Regions from separate parts of the Homo sapiens genome. Here region 1 is linked to region 2. Evidence: fine-mapped expression QTL. A gene starts in region 2. The other region holds a variant in brackets. All regions are shown on one strand. Distances are from middle to middle. Region 1 has its middle 24 kb from the start of CYP27C1. Region 2 holds the start of MAP3K2-DT (MAP3K2 divergent transcript).

The links.
Region 1: its variant is fine-mapped to the expression of MAP3K2-DT in whole blood (INTERVAL, PIP above 0.99).

What each region holds. Positions count from the first base shown.
Region 1 is chr2:127,241,732-127,247,108 of GRCh38, reverse strand. No RefSeq gene overlaps it. Among named protein-coding and RNA genes, the nearest start is that of CYP27C1, 24 kb to the right of the region's middle. The variant C/T (reference allele first, on the strand shown) is at 2,113.
Region 2 is chr2:127,385,242-127,390,618 of GRCh38, reverse strand. It overlaps MAP3K2-DT (MAP3K2 divergent transcript), which reads right to left and starts at 3,181. Exons shown (of 4, transcript NR_187129.1): 1 at 3,067-3,181; 2 at 1,621-1,738; 3 at 1,434-1,508. MAP3K2 (mitogen-activated protein kinase kinase kinase 2) reads left to right here and starts at 2,644. Exons shown (of 17, transcript NM_001371910.2): 1 at 2,644-3,167. It overlaps LOC124906074 (a long non-coding RNA gene), which reads right to left. Exons shown (of 4, transcript XR_007087227.1): 3 at 5,064-5,095; 4 at 4,458-4,539. RefSeq lists a silencer at 2,355-3,224.

The sequences.
Region 1 (5,377 bases), 140 kb after region 2:
TCTGGGTCAACCCCTCAGCCACCGCCATCGTGAAACCTTGCGCCCCTCCCGCATATGTAGTTTTGTGAAATGCTGCCACATTACCCTTTACAGGGTTGTACTTATTCACATGTCCCCTAGCCATGCATGAGAGGCTTGTCTATCCACTGCGTTACCATCAGAGCGTATTGTTATATTTTTTAAATGTTGAAGATATAGGCTTGGTGCAGTGGCTCACACCTACAGTCCTAGCACTGTACAGCTAAGGCGAGTGGGTCACTTGAGCCCAGGAATTCCAGACCAGCCTGGGCAACATAGTTAAACCTCATCTCTACAAAAACACAAAAAGTTAGCAGGGCGTTGTGGCACGAACCATGACCGCACTGCTGCACTCTGGCCTGGGTGACAAAGTGAGCCTCTGTCTTAAAAAACAAAATAAAAGAAAATATTATAGGTGAGAAATGGTATTTTAGTGTAGTTTTAATTGACATTTCTCTTATGAATTAGGTTGAAAAATCTTTCATATATGTGTGTGTATGTGTGTGTGTGTATGTGTGTATGTATGTGTGTGTGTGTGTTTCTGTGTATAAATTCCCCATTCTTATCTTTTGCCATTTTTTTCTATCGGGTTAAAAAAAATCTAAGCTGAGTGCAGTGGCAGATGCCTATAGTCTCAGCTACTTGGGAGATGGGAGGATTGCTTGGGCCAGGAATTTGAGGCTGCAATGCTCAAAGATGGTGAGATGGCACCTATGCATAGCCATTGCACTCCAGCCTGGGCAACATAGCGAGACCCTCATCTCTAAAAATGAAAAACAAAATATAAGTAAATAAACATTTTTAAAAATAAACCTTTATTCATTTATTTATTTATTTTGAGACGGGGTCTCACTCTGTCACCAAGGCTGGAGTGCAGTGTCACTATCACAACTCACTGCGGCCTCCACCTCCTGGGCTCAGACGATCCTCCCACCTCAGCCTTCCATGTAGCTTGAACCGCAGATGTGCGCCACCATGCCTGGCTAATTATTTTTATTGTTTTGTAGAGACAAGTTCTCATCTTGTTTCCCAGGCTGATCTCAAACTCCTGGGCTCAAGAGATCCACCTGCCTCAGCCTCCCAGAGTGCTGAGTACTACAGGTGTGAGCCACAGCACCCAGCCTCTCCACTGGCTTTTGGGGTAATATATGTTGTAAATATTTTCTCCCAGTGTGTTGGCTGTCTTTTTACTTTGCTTATGGTGATATTTGCCATGCCAAAAACCCTCATTTTTTGTTTTAATTTAATCAGTTTTATCAATGTTTTTAGTGCATTTAGTGAATCTGGATTTTGAGTCATAATTAGAATGTCTTTCCCTACATGCAAGTTAAAGAGAAATTCACCTCGTTTTCTCCTAATACTTGTAGGGATGTATTTTCCATTTAGATTCCTGATCATTTGGAGTTTATTTTTCAGTAGGTGTGATGAGGTGTAGCTCAGTTTCATCTTTTCCCCCAAATGGCAAACCAATTGTCCCAGCATCATTTATTTAAAAGTGCATTTTTGCCCTAGTGATTTCAGTTGCTACTCTTATCATACACTAAAGTTCCATATGTATTTAAAATTATTTCTGTTTTTTCTGTGACAGACTTGACAAACTATAATAGACTTGCTTACCTATTCAAGTGCTAGTACTACATTGTTGTAATTATAGAGGTTTTATAGTATGTTTCAATGTCTGATTGGGCTAGTCACCTTCATAGCTTTTCCTTTTTAGTGATTTCCTGGCTATTCCTAAATTACATGTTTATTTTTCCATATGAAGTTTAACATCAACTTATCTAGTTCCATTTTTTCAAAAAGCTTGCTGGCATTTTTTATTGGGATTACATTAAATTTATAAGTTAACTTAGGGAGACCTGACATTTTTATTATGTGTAGTCATTCAAAGAACAATAAATGTCTTTCAATTTGTTCAAGTACACTTTTATGTTTTTAAAATTTTCCTCGTGGATTTTGTACATTTCCTATTAGTACTTATTCCTAAATACTTTATCTTCTTTTTTGCCATATAAATGGCATTTTCCATGCCATTATATACTCTAACTGGTTATCATTGTGTATATGAAGGCTATCAAGTTCTATAAGATAATT[C/T]TACAGCTTGCTACCTTATCGAATTGTTAGTTTTATTGATTTTCTAGGGTTTTGTATGTACACTCGTATCATCTGCTAGATATAGTTTTACTTTTTCAAATCTCATGCATCTTATTGATTCTTCTTGTCTAATTGCATTGGGCTTATATCTCTAGTATAATGTTGATTAGTAGTGGAGATGGTGGGCAAATTCATCTTGTTCTCGATCTTAGTGGAAAGTTTCTGGGGCTTCCCCATTAAAGAGTTGGTGGCTTTTTCACTAAAAGTGTATGTGTTGGGGTGGGAGTGTGTGTGTATGAAAGTGCACATATGTGTATTTACATGTTAATAAAGGATAGGTCAAGGGTGGTGGCTCATGCCTGTAATACCAGCACTTTGGGAGGTCATGGTGGGAAGATCACTTGACGCCAGAAGTTTAAGAGTAGCCTGGGCAACATAGCGAGACCCTGTCTCTACAAAAACATTAAAAAATTAGCTGACTGTGGTGGCCTGTGCCTGTAGTCCCATCTACTCGAGAGGTCTAAGTGGGAGGATTGCTTAAAACCCAGGATTTGGAGATTTCAATGAGCTATGCTGACACCACTGCACTCCAGCCTGGGCAACAGAGTGAGACCCTATCTCTAAAAATACTCTGAATAATATAACTTATTTTCTTGAGGGTTTTTTTTTTCTTGAGACAGTATCACTCTGTCACCCAGGCTGGAGTGCAGTGGTACCATCTTGGCTCACTGCAACCTCTGCCTCCCAGGTTCAAGCTATTCTCCTGCCTCAGCCTCCAGAGTAGCTGGGACCACAGGTGCACTCCACCACACCTGACTGATTTTTATATTTTTAGTAGAGATGGGGTTTCGCCATGTTGGCCAGGCTGGTTTTGAACTCCTGACCTCAAGCCATCCACCGCCTTGGCCTCCCAAAGTGCTGGGATTACAGGCACGAGCCACCACTTCTGGCCATTTCTTGAGTTTTAAAATTTTCTTTTTTATTTTCTTGAGACAAGTTCTCACTCTGTCACCCATGCTAGAGTGAGTGGCACAGTCATGGCTCACTGCAGCCTCCACCTCCTGAGTAGCTGGGACTATAGGTTCACACCTTCTGTAGTCCTGGCTAATTTTTTTTTTTTTTTTTTTTAGTAGAGAGGGGGTGTGGCTCACACCTGTAACACCAGCATTTTGGGAGGCTGAGGCAGGCAGATCACTTGAGTACAGGAGGTCCAGATCAGCCTGGGCAGCACGGTGAAATCCTCTCTCTACTAAAAAAACAAAAATTACACACTCTTGAGTTTCTTTAAACAGGAGTAGGTAAGGAATTTGAAAAGGCTTTTTAAAAGCATCTATGGAAATAAACATATGATTTTTCTCCTTAGATCTGTAAATACAGTGTGTTAGTTCACTTATTAATATTTAGCCAGTGTGCATTCCAGGAACAAATCCCACTTGGTTATGTTGTATCATTTTCATAGTGTGGTGTTGTATTCTGTTAAATAGGGTTTTATTTAGAACTTTTTCATGAATATTCGTAAGTGATATTTGTAATTTTCTTTTTTTGCTGTTTTTATCAAGTTTAGTTGTTAATGCTATACTTATTTTCTAAAAACAGTTCAGGAATGTTCCTTCATTCCCAATGATCTGGAAAAACTTGTGAAGTACTGTGACTGCCTGGTCTTTGAAGATTTGGTAGAAAACCTTGTGAGACCATGAGGTTTTTTTGTTTGTTTGTTTTTGTTTTTGTTTTTTAATGTGAAAGTTCCTTGATAATTATCTCTGTTTCTTCGAAGTAAATTAGTCTGTTTAAACTGTTTGTCTCTAAATGGGGTCAATTTCAATACATTCTATCTCTCTTAAAGTTATCCACTTCATATAGATTGTCAGTATTTTCACAGAGGTCTGAAAAGTAGCCCCGTTATGTTTTTAAAAATACCTTCTGTTTCAATGGTTATTTCCCCATTTGATATTTCTTATTTTGTGCATTTGTACTTTTTCTCTTTTTCTTGAGTAAATATAGGTCGTAATTTGTCTATTTTATTTTCCCCCAAAATTACAGATTTTAATTGCATCTATTGTAATTGGATCTATTGTTTTAAAATTCTTTATCTCATTAATTTCTGCTTTCATTTTTTATTATTTTCTATCTCTAGCTTTTATAACTATTTTCCTTACTACTTTAGATTTAATTTGCTCTTCTTTTTTAGTTTCCTAAGGTGGAAACTTAGATTATTGATTTTAGGTCTTCATTCTGTTCTGATATGTACACTCAATGCTATAAATTTCCTCTTAAGCACTGCTTTTGCTGCATCCCACAAATTTTGATAACCTTTATTTTCATTTTTGTTTAATTTGAAATATTTTAAAATTTATCTTGAGAATTCTTTGATCCATGAGTTATTTAGAAGTATGTTGTGGTAATCTTCAAATATTTAGGAGTTTTCTAGCTATTTTTCTGTTATTGATTCCTAGTTTCATTCTGTTGTCATCAGATAGCATACTGCTCATAGTTTGAATGTGTCCCCCAAATTTTATGTGTTGGAGACTTCATCCCTAGTGTAGCACTATTGAAAGGTGGGGCCTTTAAGAGGTCATTGGATCATGAGGGCTCTGCCCTCACACATGGATTAATCATGGGTTAATGGATTAATGGGTTATCATTGGAGTGGAGCTGGTGGCTTTATCAGATGGGAGAGACCTGATTTAGTATGTTAGCATGCTTAGCCCCCTTGCTATATGATACCCTGCACTGTCTTGGGACTCTGCAGAGTCCCCACTAGTGAGAAGACTCTCACCAGATGCATTCCCTTGATCTTGGCCTTCTCAGCTTCCATAACTGTAAGAAATAACTGTCCAGTCAGAAGTTTGCTGCAGGGGTGGAGCCCTCATGGAGAACCCCTGCTAGGGCAGTGTGGAAGGGAAACGTGGGGTCAGAGCCCCACAGAGTCCCCATTGGGGCACTGCCTAGTGGAACTGTGAGAAGAGGGCCACCATAGTCCAGACCCCAGAATGGTAGATCCACTGACAGCTTGCACTCTGTGTTTCGAAAAGCTGCAGACACTCAACACCAGCCCTTGAAGGCAGCTGGGAGGGAGGCTGTACCCTGCAAAATCATGGGGACAGAGTTGCCCAAGAAGATGGGAGCCCCCCACTTGCATCAGCATGACCTGGATGTGAAACTTGGAGTCAAAGAAGATCATTTTGCAACTTTAAGGTTTAATGACAGCCCTGTTGGATTTCAGACTTGCATGGGGCCAGTGGCTCCTATGTATTGGCCAATTTCT
Region 2 (5,377 bases):
GGAGGCTAAGGTGGGCAAATCACGAGGTCAGGGGTCCGAGACCAGCCTGACCAACATGGTGAAAACCTGTCTCTACTAAAAATACAAAACTTAGCTGGGCGTGGGGGTGGGTGCCTGTAATCCCAGCTACTCAGGAGGCTGAGGCAGGAGAATCACTTGAACCTGGGAGGCGGAGGTTGTAGTGAGCCGAGATTGCGCCATTGCACTCCATCCTGGGCGACAGAGTGAGACTCTGTCTCAAAAATAAAAAAATAAATAAAAATAAAAGCAGAGAGTTTTCTCTGGCTGGTAGCAAAAGAGGAAGTTAGAGAGAGATCTGATGTAGGAGGATGTTTGGCACGCAAGAAGGTCTCTGTCGCTGGCTTTCAAGATGGAAGGGGTCATGTGGCAAGGAATGCAGGTGACCTCTAGGAACTGAAGGCAGGCCCAGGAAATAGGGATGTCAATCCTACAACCACAGGAAACTGAATTGTGCCCCAAAGAAGAATGAGCTTGGAAGATCTTTGCAAGGGCCTCTAGATAAAAAGTCAGCCCAGCTGATACCTTGATTTCAGCCTTGCAATATACCCTGAGTAGAGAACTCAGCCTTGCCCCTGTGCAAACTTCTGATCTGTATAACTGGGAGCTAAAAAACAGACACTGTTTTAAGTCACTAAGTTTGTGGCAGTTTGTTATGCAGCAACAGAAAAGGAACATGCCACATTTCCTCTCTGAAGTCATCTCTCACTTCCCCAGACACACCTGTGACATCTTCCTCTTGCTGCTGTGGTGCCTGATACACATCCCTCCCATGATGCAGGTCACAGTGTGTTATCATTATCCATTTACCTGTCTGCCTTCCTCACAGGATTCTGAGTTCCTGGGCAGTGGGGACTATATAATTTTATCACTGCAATCCCAGGCACAGAGTAGGAAGGCAAAAAAATATTCATTGAATGATGGTTTCATCAATAAAAAAATCCCAATATCACTAATTTGTAATCATATATACTAAAATAACCAAAGATGTCAGAGATTTAATATCTAAGCAAGAGGAAAAGTCACCAATATAAAAGGAGAATGGCGAAAAAGAAAGAATAGCTACTATAACTATACCCACGGGATGTTTCTGAGGAACCCAGAGGTGAATGAAGTCCCCGGGGTGGTAAGTGAGGGAAGGGAGTGGAGAAATGAGCAGCACTATGAGGGGAAAAAATTTATCTCTAGATTACTTAGTAAACAAACACGTTTTTATTGAATGCCTGCTATGTGGTGACCCAGTAACTGTGGAGAACAATATAGATATTTAAGATTTAAATACTATCCTCCGGCGTTCTGAGACCCTCCTTTCTGTGGCATACAGGTCTTAGAATGTTAGATTCAAGAAGGTCTTAGATTTATGCATAAGTCCCCCATTTTTTAAACAAATAGAAGCAAACTGATTTTCCACTGACCTCTGTGTTTCTGAGGTGCACATCCTTGTTCCTGTGACTTTGACACCTCTGTTAATGGGTCTGTAATAAAAATTCCTGGAAGAAACCCAGAGATATTTTGACATTACACAACAGTTTCTCCCTCAGTCTCTGCCCCACAAGTGCCAGCTCCCTTGACCCTCAGAGCCCAAGTTGGGTAGCTCCTTACCTCTGGTTCGGGTGAGTCCCATTCCCATCTCTCTCATTTCAACTGCTCCAGTGGAAATGTGGTCTGGAATATGCATGAAAGGGGTGGATCCAGAATGTACGAAGAAACCAAGAAGAAGCTGAACAGGGAAGAATGGTACAGGAAGTTGTAAGGGGTATTTAAGGAAAGGAGAAGAGATGGGGCGGAAAGGTGCTTTCTGGATCAAAGTAGGGTGAAAACGTCGGGATGCAGGTTAGTCACACCACGGAGGGCCTCACCACTAGTCTGATTAATTTGCATTTTATCCTGTGGGAGATGAGGAGCGAAAGAAAGGGTTTTAGACTCTAGCTTTGGGGGTGGGGTGTCAACTCATGTCTCTGGGCTTAAGTTTCCACATCTGTTAAGCTGGAGAAGTAATACTTGCTGGGCTAACCAATGTACACAACCAGTCATAACCAAGTATCGATGGTGATAAGAACTAAACAGAAAACACAAATAACACTTAGCCAGTCTCCAAGGGGGTGGTTTAAGGTTAGGTGGCAAGCCTGAAGTAATTTCTAAAGTCCCTCAGGAAAAAAATTCTGAAACTTGAGCCACAAATTAAGAGGCAGACGGCTTTTCTCCTTGCAAATGACCTGCCACACAGTCCGTCACTGCCTCTGCTAGCTCTGCTACCCTTGGGCCCTGTCCACAGCCCACGTGGGAGACCTTTTCACGGGATCTACTCGGATGTCTGGGATCTGGCCACTACCGCAGGCTCGAGACAACCCAGGTGCGTATGCGCCGCGCACACGGAACAGCACAGGCTGCCCCGGGGCAGGGGCGGGGGCGGGGCCGAGGCCGGGGCGGAGCCAGGACTGGGAATCCCCGCGCCGTCCGGCCGGTGGGGGCGGTGGCCTGTGTGTGGGCGTGGCGGGCCTCTGCGCAGGCGCCGACCCACTCCCCTGGGCCGGGCGCGCGCCCGCGGCGGGTTCCGCTACCGCCGGGCGGAGGGGTGCGCGCGCACGAGCGAGCGGCCGTGACGTGCGCCGCGCTACGCCCGACGTCACGGGTCCGTGTGTAGTGGCTGCCGGGCTGCCTGCCCTCAGCGGCGGCGCCTGACGAGGGTGCCGCGGCCGCTGGGCGCAGCGTTCGGGGGTTGCACGGCCCGCGGCGGCGACGAAAACAACGACCAGGACGCTCGGCGCCCCTGTCCGCAGAGTCGCCACTCCCGCCTCTTCTCCGGTCTCTAGCGACGCGGGCCCGCGGCTTCCTCCTTTCCTGCCCAGTTCCCGCGGGCCTCGGGGTTGCAGCGGCTAGAAGTGCCGAGGAGCGCCAGGAGGACCCGGCCGGCTGCGAGGATTCACGCGCCCGCCACCCCGCCCGGCCCGGGCTTCATGTGAAAGAGGGACGGGCCTGGCCCCAAGGCCCGCGCCCGACTCCTCGCGCGCCCCTCCGGTCCCCGGGGGCCCTGCGGCAGCCCCCGACCTGGGGCCGCGGTGACAGGCCGCGCTGGGGCGGAGGGGCGGGCTCGGCGGGGGCGGCCCCTCCTTGGGCCTGCGGCTCTCTACGTCCCTGCGGAGCAGCCGGTACGTGCGTGTGTGCGTGCGCGCGCGCTTGTGTGTGTGTGTGTGTGTGTGTGCGCGCGTGTGTGTCGGGGGCCGCGGGCTGGGCGCCGGGAGGGGGGCTGGCGGCGGCCTAAGCGCCGCTCCAGGGGCGGAGATTTCGCTGGGTGATTGCCTAGCTGCGGGAGGGCGGACCTTGGGCCCCCTGCATCCAGTCCTAAAGCCCAGGTCAGCGCGAAGTAGGCTGCTGGGCTGTGTTAGCTGTCAGACACGTACCCTGCAGAGATTTTAGAAGAAAGGTTGCATCTGGTCTTGGGATGAAGCAGAAATGGTACATGCAGTAAGCGAAAAAGTGCTTGTCTTTGCACTGTCACAGTGTGGTAATCTTTTGATGTAAGGTTGTTTCCCCCTTTTCTCTTTACGGAATATTTAGGTAGCACTTAGGGTGCTCTTAGTCTGCGCCCGGCAGTTGTCATGCATTATCTCTCTTCATCTTCCCAGCTCAATGAGGTGGGTAAATTGCCCCATTTTGCAGGTGAAAACTTGAGGCTCAGAGAGATTAAGGCATTTGTCCAAGGTCATGAAGGTAGTAATCCAGGAAGGCTTGGTTCGAATATGCAGATGTCTTTTTGTAAGACTGTATTTCTCGTCTTGCAAAAAATAAATACGTTTAGAAAATGAGACTAACTGGGCAGTTTCTTTAATGGGATAAATTCTAAACACATAGACAGATACAGTTTAGTTTTCCCTAACGTAAGCTCTTCGATATCTTTTGCCAAATCATTTTCTTGGCTTTAAAAAAAATTTAAAAGATGGCTTCAGATACCTTTACTTTTTATGTACTAGTACTGGACAGAAAAAAATTATTCTCTCACAAAAAATAAATACATTTGGTAAAACTGCATAGATCTTGAAAAGTCACAAATTTACTTTTGTAGTTTGACCTTGATGCCCAAAGGGAACTCACAGTTGGGTTATTTGCTTGAGATTTCCTTGTTGCAAAATTTGTTGCTGGATTATGTGGCAATTTAGTGATTTGTTCGTTGTCTTATGCAATCTTTTTTAGTTCGATGTCAAATTTTAATGCGTAGAATATCGTAGGAAGTTTGATGGTGTGATTCTTTTTCATTTGTATGGAGTGCTACTAGTCAGTGTTTATAAGTTAACTGAAAATTCTCATTTTAGCATGAGTTTTGTATTTTTTAAAACTATGGTGAGAGGAAAAAATAAGGAGCCAGAGCTCTGTACTGAAAAAAAGTCGATACATTTCCTTTGAGTAATTGAAGCTCTATGCATAATTGCAAATGTTTAACAAATCTATTGATGCCCAGTTATATTACTCTGTAATTTTCCTAGTATATTATCAAGTTGAAGAAAATTTGTGGTCTTGCAGTCTCTGTGGAGAAAAGGTGAAATTACAAAGTTAACATGTGGATGGTTTACAGATTGATTTGTTGTTTGGTTAAAATATAAACATGTTGAATCTTATTGAATTATGTTGTATATGATATCATTATAGAATGGTTATCCATGTGCCTCTTTTGAGAAACTAGCTGTTAAAGGCTTATCTTAAATAATTGGATTGCATTAGAGACTGAGTCTTATAAGCAATGTTTTAGGGGGAGCTTTTGTTTCTAGTTTACTTTATTGGTACCAAAGGGTTAAACTAACAGGTGCTGTATTAAAATAAAGTCATGTTTGATACTCTGCATTTCCTACAGCGTTGGTTTCAGGTTGATTTTCTCTTTCCCTATAGAATTGGAGCTATTTCCCCCCACCTCCCACTTTTTATTATCAAACAATTTCAAGCATACAGAAAATTTGGTAATAGTAAACCACTTGTATCTTGACCCTCTAGATTAAACATTTGTTGTTATCTTGCCATATTTGCTTTATCTATAGGTACATGTACAGGCATACCTTAGAGAGATTGTGGCTTTGGTTCCAGACCACTGCAATAAAGGAAAAGAAGTGAGTCACATAAACTTTTTAGTTTCACGGTGCATATAGTTATGTTTACAATATACTGTAGTCTATTGTGTGCAATGGCATTATGTCTAAAAAAAGTATATACCTTAATTAAAAAATTATTTATTGCTAAAAATTTCTAAAGAAATTTGAGCCTTTAGGGAATTGTAATCTTTTTGCTGGTGGAGGGTCTTGCCTCCATGTTGATGGCTGCTGACTAGTAAGGATGGTTGATAAGGGGTGGTTGTTGAAGTTTGGGATGGCTG